Linked DNA regions of Homo sapiens. The protein of the gene in region 1 purifies or fractionates together with the protein of each later gene. This does not show direct contact. Each region holds a gene or a part of one and is shown in the gene's direction. Other genes may lie near its edges.

The links.
Region 2: the proteins of INHBA (region 1) and HMGCL fractionate together in Homo sapiens (co-fractionation; one large-scale study listed by BioGRID). This does not show direct contact.
Region 3: the proteins of INHBA (region 1) and LYPLAL1 fractionate together in Homo sapiens (co-fractionation; one large-scale study listed by BioGRID). This does not show direct contact.
Region 4: the proteins of INHBA (region 1) and MSRB2 fractionate together in Homo sapiens (co-fractionation; one large-scale study listed by BioGRID). This does not show direct contact.
Region 5: the proteins of INHBA (region 1) and ALDH4A1 fractionate together in Homo sapiens (co-fractionation; one large-scale study listed by BioGRID). This does not show direct contact.

Annotation. Positions count from the first base shown.
Region 1 is NC_000007.14:41,689,070-41,693,262, reverse strand, and holds part of INHBA (inhibin beta A chain preproprotein), read left to right. Parts: intron 1-2,720; coding exon 2,721-3,613; 3' UTR 3,614-4,193. UniProt on the Homo sapiens protein: Inhibins/activins are involved in regulating a number of diverse functions such as hypothalamic and pituitary hormone secretion, gonadal hormone secretion, germ cell development and maturation, erythroid differentiation, insulin secretion, nerve cell survival, embryonic axial development or bone growth, depending on their subunit composition.
Region 2 is NC_000001.11:23,818,449-23,822,641, reverse strand, and holds part of HMGCL (hydroxymethylglutaryl-CoA lyase, mitochondrial isoform 1 precursor), read left to right. Parts: intron 1-2,048; coding exon 2,049-2,132; intron 2,133-4,193. UniProt on the Homo sapiens protein: Mitochondrial 3-hydroxy-3-methylglutaryl-CoA lyase that catalyzes a cation-dependent cleavage of (S)-3-hydroxy-3-methylglutaryl-CoA into acetyl-CoA and acetoacetate, a key step in ketogenesis. Terminal step in leucine catabolism.
Region 3 is NC_000001.11:219,207,930-219,212,122, forward strand, and holds part of LYPLAL1 (lysophospholipase-like protein 1), read left to right. Parts: intron 1-2,585; coding exon of another isoform or gene 2,586-2,602; coding exon 2,603-2,718; intron 2,719-3,562; coding exon 3,563-3,799; 3' UTR 3,800-4,193.
Region 4 is NC_000010.11:23,101,587-23,105,779, forward strand, and holds part of MSRB2 (methionine-R-sulfoxide reductase B2, mitochondrial precursor), read left to right. Parts: intron 1-2,557; coding exon 2,558-2,658; intron 2,659-4,193. UniProt on the Homo sapiens protein: Methionine-sulfoxide reductase that specifically reduces methionine (R)-sulfoxide back to methionine.
Region 5 is NC_000001.11:18,885,318-18,889,510, reverse strand, and holds part of ALDH4A1 (delta-1-pyrroline-5-carboxylate dehydrogenase, mitochondrial isoform a precursor), read left to right. Parts: intron 1-56; coding exon 57-149; intron 150-2,999; coding exon 3,000-3,047; intron 3,048-3,882; coding exon 3,883-4,038; intron 4,039-4,193. UniProt on the Homo sapiens protein: Irreversible conversion of delta-1-pyrroline-5-carboxylate (P5C), derived either from proline or ornithine, to glutamate. This is a necessary step in the pathway interconnecting the urea and tricarboxylic acid cycles.

The DNA of each region.
Region 1 (4,193 bases):
CCCCAAACCTATTAAGCCTCCCTATCCGGGGCACTAGTCAGACACTCCAGTTTTACACTCTTTCCTAGAAAAACAAAACCCAACCTTGTGCCCTCTGGGTTCTCTAATTTAGCAGCTACTATCTGTCTGTTTTTGGAGTGACACCCTGTGCAGTTTAGGATTTCAGAAGCTGTCCTGCATAGAGGCAGAAGGGAAAACAGCAGGTATCTTGTTAACATTCTCTATGGGGCAAGGCAGATGTGCCCAAGCTGGAGGAAACCTGCACACCCTCCAGGCTAGTTATCCAAGGCTTGGGAGGTTTCCCTCGGCCTTCTCCTAAGGCCTTGGCAGGACCCTGCCACCCTAAAATCAACTGCTGATTGCCTTTTTAGATTTAAATGATTAAGCTCTGCTTATGGGAATCTTCTTCTCTTTTATTTTGTTAAGAAACAAACAACAACAACAAAACCCACACCAATTCTTAGCAAAGGGGAATATCGAATTCAGATTTTGAAAAAATAAGTCATCATGCTTCCTAAAATAAGACAGCTTCTCCCTCTAACTGCTCTCTCTGCTCTGGTATTCTATCTAATCATAAACCCAGCTTTATTATTCATTTCAACTCCTGCCAAAGACATGAGGTCGGAGTCAGAGGAACTCCCCTTACCACCGCCACCATCATCATGGCCAGCATCCTCGTAAGTTTATAGAAAGATGCCAGAGAACCTTTCCTATCCATCTGCAGCCCTGCTTGGCCCTTGCCTCAGTGAATTTACCACTATCATAATCACAGTGTGCAGAGTGTGTTAAATTAAGAACAGAATCCACAGTACGCAATGCACAGAAAAGCCTGCCTTCTGCTGCAGAGAACTTGAAACTGTGCCTAAAATTTATAGTACCGTAAACATCTCAGGGCCTCGAGTGATAAGTATGGCTGGATTTCCGTTAACTATAGAAATCCAGGCAGGGAGATCCTCCCAGGGAGTTGCAAGTTCTAAGATGAACTTCTTGAAGATTGTTCCCAGATTTGTGCATGGGATACATGTACAGCAGACAGTTGTAAGGAGGTCCACGGTCATGGAAAAGAGGATATGTTTCTATATGCCACCAAGTGGGAAAAATGGAAGTGAGGGAAAATATTTGATTAATCAAAAAATTTTAGTTTGGATACCTGCTTTCATAGTAATTGTTGCTGTGTCATTAAACATACAGTTGCTTAGGAAAAGAGAAGGAAATAGGTGACTTTCTAATTTTAGAGTTAGGCTGGAACTGAGTGGTTGCTAAATTCAACTGCCCTGACAATGTGGGGATTTCCTGTCCATTAGCAGCGATTGCTATTTGACATATGTTTCTGGTGCCCATTAATCTGCCCTGTAATGGGTCAGAGGCAAAAATGGGGGATTCAGAGGTACTAGGTGGCTCTCTTAATTTAATAGAACTCAATGCTAAGGACGCCTCTATTTGTTAATAAGTAATCAAGTCATTGGCTACTTTCTGCTAAACACTAGACTATGATAGTGACCTTAGACCCCGGGCATTCTAAACCAGGCTGGCAGGAGGGTGGTGGTGGAGGTGATGTGAGGTAAGCCTCCTAGAGGAACTGTCATCCAAACAATCTGAAAATTGAAACATTATTAAAGGCAGCACTAAGGGTGGTATGTTGGAGTTGGGGCAGGAGCACTTAAGGCAGAAGGAACAGCAGGTGTCACTGCCTGCAGTTGAGAAAGGGGGTGGAATTCTCAAGGCCTTAGACCCCAGAGAACAGGACTGGGCAAGAGCTGACATTCAAGGGAGGAACAGCATGTACAGAGCCCAAAGTCCCAGCCACTTTCTGTTGGATACTGAGCAATAGGAATTCAGTAAAGGACTTTCAAGAAGAAGTGATGTGATCAGATCCACCTGTGGGAAAGATGCCTTTAGCTGCTTCATGGAGAAATGACTGGAGAGGAGGCCTTCCTTAGTGTTGCAGAGGCAAAGTAAAGAAAATGCTGCTGCAGTGACCCAGCAAAGAGGTGATGGCGGAGGAATCAGGCTGTGACAAGGGAAGAAGAGGCTGGCTCAAGTGTGTCTCGACTGCACAGACTTACACAGCGAGGTGGGGCCAGGGGCTGCATTTTTGTCTGAGAATAGTATTTCCTTAGCTTTCTAGAGCTTACAGTGTCTTTTTGTTTATGTTATCTCATTTGACCTTCCTAAACCTGTGAGATAACAGGTCAAATGTCCTTATGTCATTCCCATTTTTATAGAAGATGAAACTGAGGTTGAGCAATTAGTCAACAGACACAGACTCGCAGGCCCTCTTCATTCTAAAGCAAGGGTCCAAAACCTTTTTTCTATAAAGGGCCAGAGAGTAAATAATTTAGGCTTTGTGAGCCAGGCAGTCTGTTGCAGCTACGCAGTCCTTGGTTATTATAGTGCAAAAACAGCCATAGGCAGCATGTACAGAAATGAGCATAACCATGCTCCAACAAAACTTTATTTACAGGCACTAATGTTTAAATTTCAGGTAATTTTCACATGTCACAAAATATCACTTTTCTTTAACCACTTAAAAGTATAAAAGCCATTCTTAGTTTGCAGGCAGTACAGAAACAGTTTCAGCCCATGGGCTGTCATTTGTTGACCCCTATTCAAGAGGGTCTGTCACAGAAGACTCCTGCTTGCCTGAAATTTACGAGTGCATGTAAATGTTGGAATTAACAGGTGTGCCTGTTTTCTCTTATGCTGTCTTTCATCTTCAGGAACAGCCAGGAAGACGCTGCACTTCGAGATTTCCAAGGAAGGCAGTGACCTGTCAGTGGTGGAGCGTGCAGAAGTCTGGCTCTTCCTAAAAGTCCCCAAGGCCAACAGGACCAGGACCAAAGTCACCATCCGCCTCTTCCAGCAGCAGAAGCACCCGCAGGGCAGCTTGGACACAGGGGAAGAGGCCGAGGAAGTGGGCTTAAAGGGGGAGAGGAGTGAACTGTTGCTCTCTGAAAAAGTAGTAGACGCTCGGAAGAGCACCTGGCATGTCTTCCCTGTCTCCAGCAGCATCCAGCGGTTGCTGGACCAGGGCAAGAGCTCCCTGGACGTTCGGATTGCCTGTGAGCAGTGCCAGGAGAGTGGCGCCAGCTTGGTTCTCCTGGGCAAGAAGAAGAAGAAAGAAGAGGAGGGGGAAGGGAAAAAGAAGGGCGGAGGTGAAGGTGGGGCAGGAGCAGATGAGGAAAAGGAGCAGTCGCACAGACCTTTCCTCATGCTGCAGGCCCGGCAGTCTGAAGACCACCCTCATCGCCGGCGTCGGCGGGGCTTGGAGTGTGATGGCAAGGTCAACATCTGCTGTAAGAAACAGTTCTTTGTCAGTTTCAAGGACATCGGCTGGAATGACTGGATCATTGCTCCCTCTGGCTATCATGCCAACTACTGCGAGGGTGAGTGCCCGAGCCATATAGCAGGCACGTCCGGGTCCTCACTGTCCTTCCACTCAACAGTCATCAACCACTACCGCATGCGGGGCCATAGCCCCTTTGCCAACCTCAAATCGTGCTGTGTGCCCACCAAGCTGAGACCCATGTCCATGTTGTACTATGATGATGGTCAAAACATCATCAAAAAGGACATTCAGAACATGATCGTGGAGGAGTGTGGGTGCTCATAGAGTTGCCCAGCCCAGGGGGAAAGGGAGCAAGAGTTGTCCAGAGAAGACAGTGGCAAAATGAAGAAATTTTTAAGGTTTCTGAGTTAACCAGAAAAATAGAAATTAAAAACAAAACAAAAAAAAAAACAAAAAAAAACAAAAGTAAATTAAAAACAAAACCTGATGAAACAGATGAAGGAAGATGTGGAAAAAATCCTTAGCCAGGGCTCAGAGATGAAGCAGTGAAAGAGACAGGAATTGGGAGGGAAAGGGAGAATGGTGTACCCTTTATTTCTTCTGAAATCACACTGATGACATCAGTTGTTTAAACGGGGTATTGTCCTTTCCCCCCTTGAGGTTCCCTTGTGAGCCTTGAATCAACCAATCTAGTCTGCAGTAGTGTGGACTAGAACAACCCAAATAGCATCTAGAAAGCCATGAGTTTGAAAGGGCCCATCACAGGCACTTTCCTACCCAATTACCCAGGTCATAAGGTATGTCTGTGTGACACTTATCTCTGTGTATATCAGCATACACACACACACACACACACACACACACACACACAGGCATTTCCACACATTACATATATACACATACT
Region 2 (4,193 bases), on another chromosome or scaffold:
TCTCTAAGAAAGCTTGTTGGCTAAAACAAGGCCAGTCAGGTGAGTTGTACATGTTCCAGCTGCTTCCTAGCAGGGAATTCCTGGGGGACTTCAGGGGGTTGAGATCCTTAGCGGATCACACAGTGTGCCTTCCGCTTTGCCTCGTTGTAGTATATTTATCCAGATTAAATCTGTAAAACAAAGTTGATTTGAAAAGTTACAGTATCAAGACAGGTAGAGGAAAGAGGAAAAAAAAAGTATTGTGTTACTTGATAGGGAAGACTAAGATTTTGAGCTGACTTTATATAGAGGAGACTCAGGGCATTTTGTAAAAACTGTCTTCAGCTACTGGGGGTGTCACCTCCCCTTAGACCCATGCTTGTCATCACCCAGCCTATGACTGTAACAGAAGAGAGCCCTCCTGCATCTCGCCCATACCCCGAAAAGTCCAGGACTGACTACTCCTCCCCACACTCAGTAATTGCTCTCTTCTGGGACAGCTGTGTCCTTCATGGTTTATGTGTTATTTTAATAACTTTAAAGAGTGGCTACTTTGTACCAAACACGGTGCCAAACACTAGGGATGAAGTGGAGTTGAGACAGACAAGGTCCCTCAAAGAGCTTATGTTCTACTGGAAGAGACATTGAGTAGGCATTCTTTATCGTGCTTTGAAGGAAATAATTATAGCTCTGCAATAGCGAAAATAATGGGGGTGGGAGGAATGGCAGCTTTGCAAAGGGTGGTCAGAGGAAGCCTCTCTGCAACTGAAAGATGAGAGAGAGATGTAAGAACAGCCAGTTTTTTTAAAAAAAGCCAGATGAGGAACCCTGGGGCAGAGGGAAGAGAAGGCAGGGAGCTTAGCAACCTGTTGGGTGGAGGTTGGGAGTGGACAGTAGGGGCGAGTGATGATTCCAGGAGGTCAGAGGAGGCAACTCATACAGTCTTTTCTTTTCTTAATTGGAAAGCATCAAGTGACATATAGAGTCATTTAATTTTTTTTTTTGAGACAGGGTCTCGCTCTGTTGCCCAGGCTGGAGTGTAGTGGCACAGTCATAGCTCACTGCAGGCTCAACCTTCTGGGCTCAAGCGATTCTCCCACCTCAGCCTCTTGAGTAGCTGGGACTACATGTCCATTCCACCACACCTGGCTAATTTTTCTATTTTTAGTAGAGACGGGGTTTCTTCATCATGTTGGCCAGGCTGATCTCGAACCTCTGGCCTCAAGTGATCTGCCTGCCTTGGCCTCCCAAAGTGCTGGGATTACAGGCATGAGCCACCGTGCCTGGCCTTTTTTTATTTTTTTTGGAAATGGAGTCTTCCTCTGTCGCCCAAGGTGGAGTACAGTGGCACGATCTTGGCTCATTGCAACTTCCACCTCCCTGGTTCAAGCAATTCTCCTGCCTCAGCCTCTTGAGTAGCTGGAGTTACAGGCGTGCACCACCACACCCGGCTATTTTTTGTGTATTTTTAGTAGAGATGGGGTTTCACCATGTTGGTCAGGCTGGTCTCAAACTCCCGACCTCAAGTGATCGCCCGCTTCGGCCTCCCAAAGTACTGGGATTACAGGCATGAGCCACTGCCCCCCGCAATACCTGGCCTTTTTAAACTACTTCTAACATACATACAGCAGCATACAGAGTCCTATAGGCCATGGTGAATAGGTGAAATGGCTCAATGAAGTTCTGGCTTATGCAGTAGGGTACATGCGATGCCTTTGACAGAGATGGAAAGGATGGAGTCAGATGGGCTTTAGGAGAAATTAGAGTTCTGTTTCGGGACTGCTATATGAAGAGATGCGAATAGAGCTGTCAGGTAGGCAGTGGAAAAGGAGTCTGGACTTCAGGGGAGAACCGGTACTGGAAGGATGAATCTCTTGCTTGTTCCTGTTACTAAGTGAAATATTCTTTTTGTTCTTAATTCTAAAATAGACCAAATGTGAATTAAATGGTGAGAAATATTTCTTCTTGTCTCATTATTAGTGAAGATAGATCCATTCTTTCATATTGGTCTCCCTGGGAATTGTGGCAATCTCTTCCTCATACTTTTTGTTTCCTCTTTTAAACCAAAGGTCAGCACCTCATCTATGGGCACTTTACCAAAGCGGGTGAAAATTGTGGAAGTTGGTCCCCGAGATGGACTACAAAATGAAAAGGTAAAGTTGGAAATGAGCCAAAAAAACAGTTTTTTCAAGCATCTGCTTTGAGTATTACGTGTGATAGGTGCAATGGCAGTTGACAGAGCTATGCAAGATGTGATTCCTCTGCACAAGTTAGGGGAGAGTAGAGGAGGCCAAACAGGGACAGACACCTGTGACAGTTAAATGATCTAAAATGGTGGGGCAAGCTGGATGGGTGGCTCATGCCTGTCATCCCTAATTACTTGGGAGGCTGAGGTGGGAGGATGGCTTGAGCCCAGGAGTTTGAGACCAGTCTGGGCAATATAGCAAGACTCTATCTTATTAAAAAATATATGTATATATATAAACTGAATGGTGGTGCAACAGGTTTGGTGTCCCCAGGTCCACAGCCCAGTGGGGTGGGGTAGACCCAGCAATTCCATGTAAGGGGATTTATCCAAAGCAAGTCACGAAGGCCAAATGTAGAGATTTAGCCTTGGGGGTGTTCCTTACAAACCTGTTTGGTAAGCACAGAACAGTTGGAAACAACTTAAATATTTAGTATGAGGAAAGTTGGGTCAGATACACTATGGACTTTTTATAAAATGAAATATTATGAAGCCATTAATAACATAGGTATATATAAAGTGACTCAAGCAGTTTATAAAATAGTACATGTGACTGGGCATGGTGGTGGCTCATGCCTGTAATCCCAGCACTTCAGGAGGCTGAGGCAGAGCACGATTCTGTCTCCAAACAAAAACAAATAGTGCATGTGCGCGTACGCACGCGCGCGTGTGTGTGTGTGTGTTTTTGGGAGATGGCATCTCACTCTGTCACCCAGGCTGGAGTGCAATGGCGCAATCTCGGCTCACCTCAACCTCCTCCTCCCGGGTTCAAGTGATTCTCCTGCCTCAGCCTCCCGAATAGCTAGGATTACAGGCCCCTGCCACCATGCCCAGCTAATTTTTGTATTTTTAGTAGAGATGGGGTTTCACCAGGTTGGCCGGGCTGGTCTTGAACTCCCGACCTCAGGTGATCCACCTGCCTCAGCCTCCCAAAGTGCTGGGATTACAGGCATGAGCCAATGCGCCTGGCCATGTATTTTTTAATCTTAACACTTTTATGTAAGAAAAAAGTTTATATATGTATGGGAGCATTTATCTAGACTAGGACCTAGACCAGCACTTTCTGTGAAGATGGAAATATTCTGGACCTGAGCTTTTCCATGTGGTGGCCACTATACCCATGTGGCCCTTGAGAACTTGAGATGTGACTAGTGTGGCCAAGGAATTGTATTTTTATTTTTATACAATTTTTATTAAATTTAAATAACCACATGTGACTAGTGACATATTGGGCTGCACAGATCTAGAAAGTTACACACCAGGGTGTTAATAGCGTTATCACTGGGAGATTCTAAGGGTGGTTTTCTTTTGTTTTTGGCATGTTTTTCTGAAAGAATCATATATTGATTATTTTTTCAATAAGAAAAGCTTTTTTCTTTTTCTCTTTTTTTTTTTTTTTTTTTTTTTTTTTAGCACGTCCATCCTAGCTTTAATAGTGAGTGCTTGTTGGAAACAATAGTGTGTAAGTTCCCGAAGGGCAGAATCCTGTCTGTTCTGCTTCTGCTTACTGCTATATCCCCGGCACCTAGCACAATGCCTGCAACATGGAGGGCTTTCAAAAATTATTTGACAGGCTGGGCATGATGGCTCATGCCTGTAATACTGGCACTTTGGGAGGCTGAGGCAGGCAGATCACCTGAGGTCAGGAGTTTGAGACCAGCCTGGCCAACATGGTGAAACCCCATCTCTACTAAAATAAATGAGCTGGGGTGGTGGCATGCTTGTGTAATCCCATCTACTCTGGAGGCTGAGGCAGGAGAATCGCTTGAACCCGGAAGGCGGAGGTCGCAGTGAGCTGAGATTGTGCCACTGCACTCCACTCTGGGCAATACAGTGAGACTCCATCTCAAAAAAAAAAAAATTTTGTGGAAAGATTAAGTTAGAGCAGTGGGAGAGAAACTGGAGAAGGCAGGCAAGGGGAGGACCTAGCGAGAAGGACCTGGAGTATTTTTGTGTGTTCTTTTTGTTT
Region 3 (4,193 bases), on another chromosome or scaffold:
CATCATGGTCTGTAAGTCTCTTTTTTTATTCTCTGTGTCTCACTCTTTGCTCAAATCCCATCTCTTCCTCTCTCACATTCTCTCCTATTTTAGAGATGTAGTTTTATTATTAACAGTGTGTTTGATTTTAAGCAACCTGAAATTCCTTTGTAAGTAAATGGGCTGTAAAGAACAGAGGGGAAATTGGAAGAGATGAAGGAAGTGAGTGTTTGGTAAGCTCTATTCTGTGAACTTTTAGGAAAGCTAGAATTGTGTTCTGAGAGATAGGGATTCTTAAACTGAAAGTAGATTTCTGTATTTACAGTAACTGTACATTTTAAAAGTTCTCGCAATTTTAGTTTTTATAACTGATTAAGTATTTGTATTTAAAAGGTTGGTGGAAAATCTAGAGATTAGTCCATCTATCTTGTTTTACTATAAATGAAATCCAGCATTTTAAATAATTTACACAAAGACATTCAGCTTGGGAGTATCACAGGCAGGACTAGAACTAGTTTCCTTAATGTTGTCTCTTTGATAAGCTTAAGAGATATTTGTAAATTTTTTACTACTTTCATTAGAAACCCATACGGTTTCTAAAAATTCAGTTAAATTTTTATTGAGTTACTGCTATGTGCAAAGCACTATACTTACCACTGAGCGTGTAAAGTTGAAACTGACTCATTAGTATGCGTGCACCACAGAGACACTTTGTTCAGCTAATCATAAGCACTCAATGAAAATATGATTATTGAAGAAAAACTGTTTCTTACCCTTAAGGGTTTCAAAATCTCAATAATTTATATTCAATAAATTAAATCGATAAGAATTTTATTTCAAAATGTCTTCGCTTTACAACCCTCATGATGTTATTAAAGAGAAAACTTCATAAGCAGAGAGAAATCTGTAACTAGAATTGTGGCAAAAAACAATAAAGTTGAGATTTTTTTCTGTGTACTTACAATAAATGTTTACCAGAAATACTAATTTGTGTATTTACGTAAGCTGTTCATATCTAAATGGGACATGTCAAAGATTTATTAATGCACAAATTCATGGATAATGTAGCCCAGTGGCTTTTAACCTTTTGGAGAATCTAATGTACATTTGCAAATTTTACATACAGTGTTAAGATGCTTATGCTTTTTTCTCCCCCACCAAGCTCATTTATGAACTTCTAATTAGATGTATCTACATCTGGAGTTATTGGGGGTATTTTGAAAGAGCCTTTCAGGTGGCTCTTGTCCATGGTGGGCTACTGCTACGATAAGAACTTATTATTTCTTGCTGGTATGTTGAAAATCACAGATAACTTTTATTCATTATTTACATAGTGTGCCTTTTTTAAAAAATCTAAACTTTGCCAGACTGGTAATCTTCTCTCGGGTATTTGTGTTCTGAGTCCAAAATAATATTACCTGCCTATTCCAGATAAAGTAGTCCTATTTTAATAAATATCAAGGGATAGTAGAAAGTATATTAAACTCTATTGCAAAAGATCCGAATTCCAAAATTACTATTAATAGTTTTATATTTAAAATAATATGTACCTAATCTTGGGCCTCAGTTCCCTCCATGTATAAAAGATTATTGTAGTAAATTCAAATTTATGGTCTCTTAAGAGCTCAGCTTTACACTTTGTTAAGTGAAATAAAGCAGCAGACTTGAAATTAGGAGATTTGAATTCTACTTCAAAGTATATTTTTGTATTTCTATGAGTGTGTGGCTACATGATTTACATTCTGTATTTTCTCATGGAATATAATGAGATGTCATTTAGCTTTCTCTCAAGCTTAGGAATGTCACACTGAGTCACTGACTTGTCGTCAGGCCTGGAATCACCATTCTCTCTGCTGCCGTCACCTCATAACAGCTATCTCCATATTCTGTGTTGGATGTGTTTCCTTCTCAAAGTTCCCCTGAACAGGAGGGTCTGTGTATTTTAATCTGCATATATCCAGTGACTGGCATAGAATTGGTACATTAAAGAGACAATAACAGTTTGACTAATTTTTTTTTCAAACTTTGGTTTTAAAAACTACATATAGGCATACATGTTTCATTTTTATTATATCACCATAAATTAGTTTCCAAAATAATATTGTAATCCAAAAATGTGTTAACTAGCTCCTCAAATTTTTTTTATCATTCTTAATTCAGAATTCACTAAGCATCTATTATATAGCAAACACCAGATACATAACTCCTTATGGAGCTCACAGCTTAGCAAGTAAGACAAAAAGGTGCAAATTATTAATTGCGTTGCAGTGTGAGGGTTTCTGTACGTGTAAACAAAATATAAGTAAATATTGAGAATTTAAGTAATGCTTGTAATATGACTCATTTTGAATTACGATAGATATTTTACTTGGTGAACATGATATATTTGTTTAATCCTGGCTCCTTGTAGAGCACAGCTCTCTTTACCAGTGGTGACATAGAGGGAACAGGGTTATTTATGTTATCGCAGGCCTTTGTCTGTGAAACTTAGAGTAGACGAAATTTCTTTTTAGCATTCTCTTTAAAGGTCTCCAGATATTTTAAAAATATGGAAAATTGTTATATATCATATCCTAAATTATTATTTTATGTATTCTACTTTTAAGTATGTTTTTGTTTTTAGGAGGATTCTCTATGGGAGGATGCATGGCAATACATTTAGCATATAGAAATCATCAAGATGTGGCAGGAGTATTTGCTCTTTCTAGTTTTCTGAATAAAGCATCTGCTGTTTACCAGGTAAGTTCCAGATTTAAAAAAAAATGAAAAAAATATGAAATATATACATGTTAAAACTAAAGCAAAATCGGTAATAAAGCTGTAAAACACACACACAGTTGATGCACAGTTGATATGGATTGACCATTCCTGGAATTCATGGCCAAATGAGTCGTAGTGATTAAATTCCAGCTGATCATTAATGTTTTGGAAATCCCCTGTACAAGAAATATTGTTAAGCAAAATGTCAAGGAGGAAAGGATAATCATGTGTGTGGTTGTGGGGGAGCATATATGTAAATTTTATACATATTAAAACTGCATGATGGTTATAGCTGGGTTTGCTTATTGCATCATGAACATAAAACAAAAATCAATTACATAGCACATACTTATTATGCAGCAATATCCTCATCTATGAATATGATGCAGCTTCAATTATAATGTTACAGCTTCAGTACCAGAAGTGGAAATGTTAAAGCAGATACAGAATAGAGAACTAAAATGTAATTGTCCCCTTGATTGTGCCTTAGCTGTGTACTCCTCCCTCCTTCCACATTGTGTGAAGAGGTCTGTCTTCCCAAGTCACTTAGTTTCTTTAGGAAATGCTTTGGCCATTTTTAAGACGTCCTCTATAGAATAAATGTAAGTGACACACAGTTACAAATTGAGTGATGCCAGGAACCAGCTAAGTCCCCAGGCCTGGCCCACCAATGTATACCTCAGACAGCACTCCCTCTGCCTTTTTTTTCCCATTAGTTATTGAAGCCTTGGTAAAATTGGAATTTTCCTGTTCTCTCTGATTTCTAAGAATGATCTTAAATGGAATTTCTTAAACTTTTCTGTCTTTGTATCTTCTTCTCTAGGCTCTTCAGAAGAGTAATGGTGTACTTCCTGAATTATTTCAGTGTCATGGTACTGCAGATGAGTTAGTTCTTCATTCTTGGGCAGAAGAGACAAACTCAATGTTAAAATCTCTAGGAGTGACCACGAAGTTTCATAGTTTTCCAAATGTTTACCATGAGCTAAGCAAAACTGAGTTAGACATATTGAAGTTATGGATTCTTACAAAGCTGCCAGGAGAAATGGAAAAACAAAAATGAATGAATCAAGAGTGATTTGTTAATGTAAGTGTAATGTCTTTGTGAAAAGTGATTTTTACTGCCAAATTATAATGATAATTAAAATATTAAGAAATAACACTTTCCTGACTTTTTTATTATTAAAATGCTTATCACTGTAGACAGTAGCTAATCTTATTAATGAAAAACAATAGACAAACATCTGTGCATAATTTTTCAGACACAATTCTGTAAATATTTGGAAACCTTTTAAGTATTTAAACTTTTAAATTTTTGAAATAAAGTATTCTAAACTAATATAAATAAGGACAATGAAAAAACATGAAAGGACTTAGCATAATGTTATTTTATCTTTTCTACAACTTTGTTTAAATTACCTTTCCAAAGATATTTGTGTTTATGTAATTTTCCACGG
Region 4 (4,193 bases), on another chromosome or scaffold:
GTTTTCCATAGTGGTTGTACTAGTTTACATTCCTGAGAGTGGAAAAGGTTTAAAACACTCATTGCAGAGAAATGGGAAGAGAGCTGACTGGGGAAAGATGGTTCCATGGTTCACTGAAACCCCAGTGAGATGAGTAACTTTGAGTTTATAAGGACAACCCTCTCCCCAGGTGGGGGATTTTCTCCAGTAGTGCTTGATGGTACACGGGTAGCCATGGAGAAGATAGTTTTTTAAATAAGCTTTTTTATTTTGGAATAATTTTAGATTTATAGACAAGTTATAAAGACAGTACAGAGTTCTCAAGACCCCTCATCCGGATCCCCCTGGTAATCTTCTGACATCATCATAGTACATTTGTCAAAACTGTCTCTGTCTTTCATGACCTTTACAGTTTTGGGGAGGACTGGTCAGGTTCCTTGTAGAATGTCCCTCAGTCTGGGATTGTTTGATGTTTCTCCTCACAATTAAACTGGGATTATGGGCTATTAGGAAAAATCTCATAGAGATGCAGTTCCTTTCTAGATTCATGTGCTCTTCCCCATCTCTCTCCCCAACACTGAGACACACACGCGCAAACGTACACTCACACACTCACACTTACTTATTTATATTTCTCTTGCTAAACCATTTGAGAGTTGCAGACATCATGACACTTTACTGCTAAATATTTCGGCATGTTTCCTAAGACCAAAGATGTTTTCCTACAAAACTGCAAGACAGTTTTCCTCTCAGGAAATTGAGCACCCTTGTCTAATACACAGTTGATATTCAAATTTCCCACCATATACCAACAATGTCTTTTATAGCTCTTGTTTTTTTTTCTGGGATCTAGAATTTAATAAAGGGTCACACATTGGTTTTAGTTGTGGACAGTCCTTCTTTTGAATAATTTCCCTCAATTTTCACTTATGTGATTTTTTCTTCATGAGACACTGATTGAATGTTTTCAGCAGGAAAACTTTACTGGTGATGTTGTGTCCTTTCCAGAGCATCACATCAGGAAGACAGGATGTCACTTGTCCCACTGTTGGTGATGCTAACTTAGCCTACTTGGTTAAAGTAGTGGCATTTTCTTTTTTGTAATTAATAAACTTTGGGGTTGTATTTTGAGAAGATGTGACTATCTGTTCCCCAGTAGTCTTTCACCCAGGGGTTTTAGAATCCTCTGATGATTTTTACAAAATGGTGATTTTAAAAATTCTATACTTCCTTCTTCATTTATTACTTGACATTCTGCGTGATAACTCTGAAGGCCATTGAGCAATAGTAATTATCACATAAATACATTTTGTTTTGTTCCCAAAGTGTCGAATACCCCAAAAATCATGTGTTAACTGAGGTATATTCCATAGGAATTTCAGAGATCTATTTTCATAGCAAAAAGAAACCCCTGTAGTCTTATAAAGATTGTATTTAATAAAAGATACCTCCTAGGGGAGCCCTTGTGTAAAAATAATAACAGTAATAAAAAGAAAGAAGAAAACTTTTAATATATTAAATAGCCTAAAAACCTTTTAGCAAAATGTAAGCAATCAACTATATGTATCACTGGAAATGCAGTATTGTTCAGTATTATAAACTGGAGAGGAGATAAGTCTTTTCTTGCCGAAGGATAATTTAGGACTTTTTTTGTAACCTAAAATGAATTTCAACTGTAACTTCTGACGTGTTTGATATATAGGTGCTGGCATCACGGGCATTCAACGTTTCATCTTCAGTGCCATAGTCAGATTACTAACCCTTTGGGCCTCTGTTTCTCATCTGCAAACTGAAGAGTTGGACACATTATAAAATCCTTTCAGATTCTTAATGTTGGATGATTAAAAACATTTATTATAGGAGTTGGGCTTCCTACTCCCTTTGGCTAAAGAGAGTATTGCTCTAGTTACTTGGTTTACACTCACGTGAATAAATGTAGTAATATAGATGCCAAGGTGAGTAGGAAAGAAGAAAACAAAATATGGACAAAAACCATGAAGCATCATAATAGATTATGGTAGGTCTGTTTCTCTTTCAGGACTATATGCTATGGGAGTTTCTTCTTTTGTTCCATGCAAGAAGATTTTTAAAATAGAGACCTCCCTTGACAAAGAAAATCAGAGATATCCTTATAAACTAGCAAGGGAGAAGAGTTTAATAACCGACTAGCTCACAGTTCTTTTCTGCCCAATGCCTCAACTACTTCTGGCTAGATTCTGACAGCAACTGCTCCTCTAAAAGTCATCAGAGAAGAGAGGATCAGTTTCTACCCTTAGGTACCCGAAGGGAATGTATTCCGCATTCTTTCATATTTCAGCTGCCTCTTTCACTTCTGTGCCCCAGGAAGACTAGAAAACTGGCTCTCTACTTCTTGTTAATTTCTTATTAAATTAAATAGTCAATGAAGGCATTTTGTGCCTGAGCCTTCTGGTCCCCATGAAGAATAAACTCGTGGGAGAGAGAGGAAGGGACTGGATTATTCTGCTGGGTGACAGTACACTTAGGGAAAAAGGTCAAGGAAGAAAAGTCCATCAGGCATTTTTGTTTTAATTTTTAAAATTCCTGTTTAACAATACAGGGTCTCTTGCAACGTGTGAGCTGCCTCTTGCCAAGAGTGAGTGGCAAAAGAAACTAACCCCGGAGCAGTTCTACGTCACAAGAGAAAAGGGAACGGAACCGGTAAGCTAAGCTGGTTTACAGTTTTCTGATTGCATGTGTTGGCAGTGAGGGGCCAGTTGGAATAGGTCCAGCTATGAAACCCAGCTGCCCAGCAACACTCCACAGGCCTGGTCTTCCTCTTCCATTGTGCCCTTCTCGGGGTGTTGATATCCATCGAGTTGTAGAAACCTGAAACTTTTCTCTGGACACAGCATCTCTATTCTGACTCCTAAATAACCTTCCTGTCATTTCACTTCCATGCACCGCTGTCACCTCCCCGTGGGGCCAAGTCACCATCACCTTCTCTGTGCATGGCCATTCTTGCTCCAGCCAACCCATTCTCCACACTGCAGCCAAAGAGTTCTTTGGAAAACACAGATCTGACCATATCACTCCCCAGCTCAAAACCTTTGGTGGCTGCCCAGTGCTTTCAAGGAAAAAGAAAAGTATGAGATGGCTAATAAGGTCCTAACGGCCCCTGGCTCCCACCCCTATCCTCAAATCCAGCCATCTTCCCTCTTGACACGGTACTTTGGCCACACCACCCTTGAGCTCTCACATGCCCTGGGCTCCCTTCTCTTTTAAGGCCTTTGCACCCAGCTTTCCTTCTTCTCTCCCGTCATCCCTCCCCACACTCTCCACCCATTCATTCAGACCTACCTTGTAGCTCTCGGCCCAAATCTCACTTTCTCTGGCAAACCTTCTCCTAGCCCCCAGCTAGGGTTGCTTCTAGCAGAACTCTTCCTTCATAGCATTTGCCATCACTGCTGTAACCCCTGGCACCTAACGTGGTGGCTGGCCTAGTAGGCATCCGAAAAATCAACTTTTGTGAATGTTGAATGACTGCCGGGTAAGAGGTGGAAACATTATTTAAACTGCATTTGGCAATCTCAGCTTTCATTCATTTTCTGAGAGAACAACCCTCAGTGGTTCTTCATTATAACACCACTTTTTACAGTGCTACATTTATCTCTCTCTCTCTGTGTGTCTGTGTGTGTGTGTGTGTGTGTGTGTGTGTGTATACAAGTTTCTGGGGTACTTGAGAAAATTTGTTACACATATATAATGCATAGTAATCGAGTCAGGGTATTTAGGGTGTCTGTCACCCGAATACAATACATTTTTGTTAAGTGTCATCCTCCTACTCTGCCATCAAACACTGAGTGTATTCCTTTTCTCTTACTGTATGTTTGTGGACTTTAAGCCACTCCTCTTCATCCTCCCCCTACCCCCTGCTTTCCAGGGTAGGAAACCCCCTTTCCAGGCTCTGTTATCCATTTTTCCACTCTCTACCTCCATGTGTTCAAATTCTTTAGCTCTCACATATAAATGAGAACATAGTGCCGCGTTGCTTAACAAGTGGTCTGTCTTAGACCCAAATATAGCTACTGGAATGTAGCTTTTTTGAATTGAACTTTGTTATTAGATATTTTTACTAGTGAAGCAGATCCCACAGAGTGGACCCCAGCCCTGTGGCTTCAAACATAGTAGAGTATGAATGTTTTTTCCTTTGTCAGCACCTGCAAAACTCATGTCACTACCCACATGCACTGCCA
Region 5 (4,193 bases), on another chromosome or scaffold:
AGATGGGAGGAAGCGAGGAAGGCGGTGACCATACCCACTCTTGTCCCTCTCCCCAGGCCTTGAAGGACCTGAAGGGCCGGATGGAAGCCATCCCATGCGTGGTGGGGGATGAGGAGGTGTGGACGTCGGACGTGCAGTACCAAGTGTCGGTATGTCCAGCGGGTGGGCAGAGCTCAGCCCCTCCCCTGAATATGTGACCTCTTTCTCTGACAGCTCGTAAGCTTATAATGTGTGGGCTCTGACTTCAAGGCCTTTATAGTGCCCCTCCCCACCCCAGATTTTGAATTCTGTGGACCAGTAAAACTCCCAAAGCAAAGGACGGCACCCACACTGCATCCAGCCCATAGCGGCATCCTGTGTCTGGGCAAGAAAGGCCATGAGGGGGCCACACAGCATCTTCTGTTATTCCTCATAGATTTCTTGCCAAGGGGGTTTGGGAGCTAATGACAAAAAGCTGGGCCCCGGGCCCCGAGCACCTCAGATGGCATTGGCCTAAGAAGCCCCCATGCTTGGAGTTTATCCATCCAGAAACTGGCATGCACTTTACGTGGGCCAGGAAACTCATAGGTCTGTGATTTGAGGGAGAATAAAAGGTCAGCCCTTTTGCAAACAGGGCAAGCACATTCTGGCTCTGTCCGGCTGAAACCCTGGGCAGACGTGTGCAGGGGGAGGGGTGACTGAGGGGGAGGACCCAGGTCCCCCACTCTGAAGGTTCCCAGGACAGCCTGGGGCAGGAGTTGACCACAGCAGTGTCCTGGAGCTCTAGTTGCTGGGTCAGGACTACCTGGAGCTGTCCAAGCATGGCCTGGGGTCTGCAGGCATTGGCCAGGTCACTCTGTCTGTCACTGGGTGTGTGTGCAGGTGCCAGCTGACAGCAGCACCTGCCACCCAGCTCCCTGGTTGTCTCTGTAGCTGCCTAGAGCTTGCCCTCACCTGTAGCTCCGCAGGCGTCTGAGGCTGCATGGCAGCTGGGATTTTTCCAGGCAGCGAGGCTCCGGCATTCTGATAAGCCCCTGGGTGGATACTGCTGATTTTCATTTCCCACATTGCCTTGCCGACCTGGCTGGAGATTCTGGCCATGTGCTGATCACTGTGGCACGAGACATTTGGGGTTCTGGGGCATGTGAGGGCAGGATCTATGTTTGCCGGGACATAGTGCTGACGGGGTTCTGCAGTCCACTGGGGCCCAGGTCGCAGCCACCTTCTCTGCCCTTAAGCATCACAGGCCAATCTCAGGTGTGGCCCGAATACAGAGTGACTGTGCCAAGCTTTAACATGAAGGAGAATGGTCACTTTCTACTCAAGCCTAGACCAGCGCCGGCCAGTAGAATTTCCTGCAGTGAGGACAGAAATGTTCCAGATCTGCATTGTCCGTTCCAGCGGCCATGAGCCGCCACGTGTGGTTGTTGAGCATGTGAAATGTGGCTCGTGGCTACTCTTTTAGACAGGAAAGCTCCAATAACCCACCAGAAGACGGATAGGTAGCAAAAGTGTCAGCTATTACGATATAAACTATCTTGCCAGCCCTAGGAAGGAAAGAAGTGAAATTTCTCCCTGCTTCATTGGTCATGCTAGCGTTCACCACTGCCGGGCATTAGGTTTTGAAGGGAAGACAGGGGTTAAAGAAAGACACACACACAGAGAGAGGGCAGCTGAAACAGCAACACCAGTATATTGCAGAAACCTGAGGAAGTGGGGGACCAGCTTAATGCCAGGGCCCACCGCTGCTTACAGGCTGAGGTACTCATCGGTATGGGTGAGACGGGTCTGGGCAGTATGGCTTGCTGCCTGGCAGGATATTGATAAGATGTTGTTATGATCAGGTGGTTTGGCCCTCTCCGGTGGGATGTCATCGTGGTGTTCCTTGTACCTTTACCCAGCAAGATATGATAGGGATGGTTTTTTTTTTTCTGAGACGGAGTCTCGCTCTGTCGCCCAGGCTGGAGTGCAGTGGTGCGATCTCGGCTCACTGCAAGCTCCGCCTCCCAGGTTCATGCCATTCTCCTGCCTCAGCCTCCCCAGTAGCTGGGATTACAGGCATCCGCCACCACGCCCAGCTAATTTTTTGTATTTTTAGTAGAGAGAGGGTTTCACCATGTTAGCCAGGATGGTCTCGATCTCCTGACCTTGTGATCCGCCCGCCTTGGCCTCCCAAAGTGCTGGGATCACAGGTGTGAGCCACCGCGCCCGGCCAACAGGGAAGTTTCTTTAGGTGGGCCTTCGTCCGCCTTGCGGTCAGGCGGCTGAGCCGGATGGTTCTCATGGCCTGAGCTCCTGTGAAATGTTTCACTTGGCCCGAGGTCTGCAAAATAGCGGGGAGCTGACAAAATGGTGCGGTTTGGACCAACACCAGGTTGTGTTTATAAATGTTTGTTGAGGATCTTCCTATTTAGATTAGTAAATCTGGGGCTTAGGAAACAATTGCTCTGTCCATGATGGCTTCGGGGCAGGGCGGAAGTCCCAAGCATGTCACAACACCGGTGCATTCTTTTGGGCCTCACCTGGTTTTGTTGCCCATAGTCGCAGCCTCATACTGGACCAAAGAATTTTCATCCATGATCCCCTTTGGTTCTCCTGTCCATGCTAAGAGACAGGGAGGGCAGTCCCCATTTCCTAGATGAAGAGACTTAGGGAAGGAAGTGAGCTTACCTGGGGCCCCACAGCTAGTAGGTGGCAGAGCCAGGATTCGAACCCATGTCTCTCTGACCACAAAGGTCCGTGCTTTCCTGGAAAGACCCTGGGGTCTATGCCTTTCTCCTGGACTCTGAGCCTTCTGGAGAAGGAGCCATGTCTTACTCATGGTATAGCGGGTACACCAGCACCCTTAACAGGGAGCAACCTGTGGGCCGGGCACTGGGGAGGGTTTCATGGGAGCGGGGGAGGGGGGACAGCAGGCGTGTCCAGGACTTTCCTGGAAAACCGGCTCTGAGTCCAGTCCTCTTCATCCTTATCCTGGCACCTCCCTCCCGGGCAAGGACCTCACTCTTCTCTCCTTTCAGCCTTTTAACCATGGACATAAGGTGGCCAAGTTCTGTTATGCAGACAAGGTGAGTGAGCCTGTGTGCCTGGTGACCCGGGGTTAGGGTTGCTGCCCCTGCTCTGCCCTGCCAGCTGCTGATATGGCGGGGGCAGGGGGCATCAGTTGCTGTGTCCTTCTTTGGCCATGGTGGGTAGGTGGGCAGGGGGTGGCTGACACTGAGGGAGTCCCTGGGTGATGTCTTTGACTGGGCCAGGCATACAAAGGTTAACTTGAGCCAAACACAAGCTGCCTCAGCCAGGGCTGAGACATTCCCAGACATGCCCATTGTGGTGGGGCAGACCTTGGACTGGGGAGGAGGTGGATTCTGGAAGGCTGAGTCAGGGCAATTGGAGACACCATTGATGGAAAGCTAGGCCAAGAATTGGCACTGGAAAGGGCCAGCAGGAGGGGCTGGGGTGGCTGGGGGTCCAGGAACTGGCATTGTGTGGCGATGAGGGCAGTTGGGGTCTGGGAGGCCAGCAGCAGAGCCGTGTCTCAGGCTCCAGTTGACCTCAAGTTTCTGGATGGTGGGTTAAGGGGCACCAGGTCCCAAGAATAAGGTAAGGTTTTGATTAGACCATGAGAGAAAGTGGAGCCAGTGTAACAGCTGCGGGACTCAGTGCCAAGGCCTCGGAGAGCTGACCAACCTGGCCGGGCCCTTCAGGCTTCAGACTGGCAGCCACTACAGGCTCTGATGGGACGCTGTTGTTGGCAGCTATGGTGGCAGGGGGCTGAGGGCCCAGGGAGACAGGCATTGTCCCCGGATGGAAGAGAGTGGCCTCCCAGGTCTCTCCTCCCTCGCTCACTCCCCAGGGCCTTTCCCGCTGCAGGTGGCAGTCCCCAACCTCTCCCTCTCCCTTTAGAGCCTGCTCAACAAAGCCATTGAGGCTGCCCTGGCTGCCCGGAAAGAGTGGGACCTGAAGCCTATTGCAGACCGGGCCCAGATCTTCCTGAAGGCGGCAGACATGCTGAGTGGGCCGCGCAGGGCTGAGATCCTCGCCAAGACCATGGTGGGACAGGTGAGGTGCTGGTGGGCCCGGGTGGGTGGGGCGGGGTGGGGTGGGAGTCAGGTGTGCCCTACCCATGGCAGCAGACATCAGCTGAAGCGCTTCTGGGTCCTAAGCCCTTTTGGGGACCCAGAGATGTCCTCAAGGGACAAGGCCTAGGAGCTGGG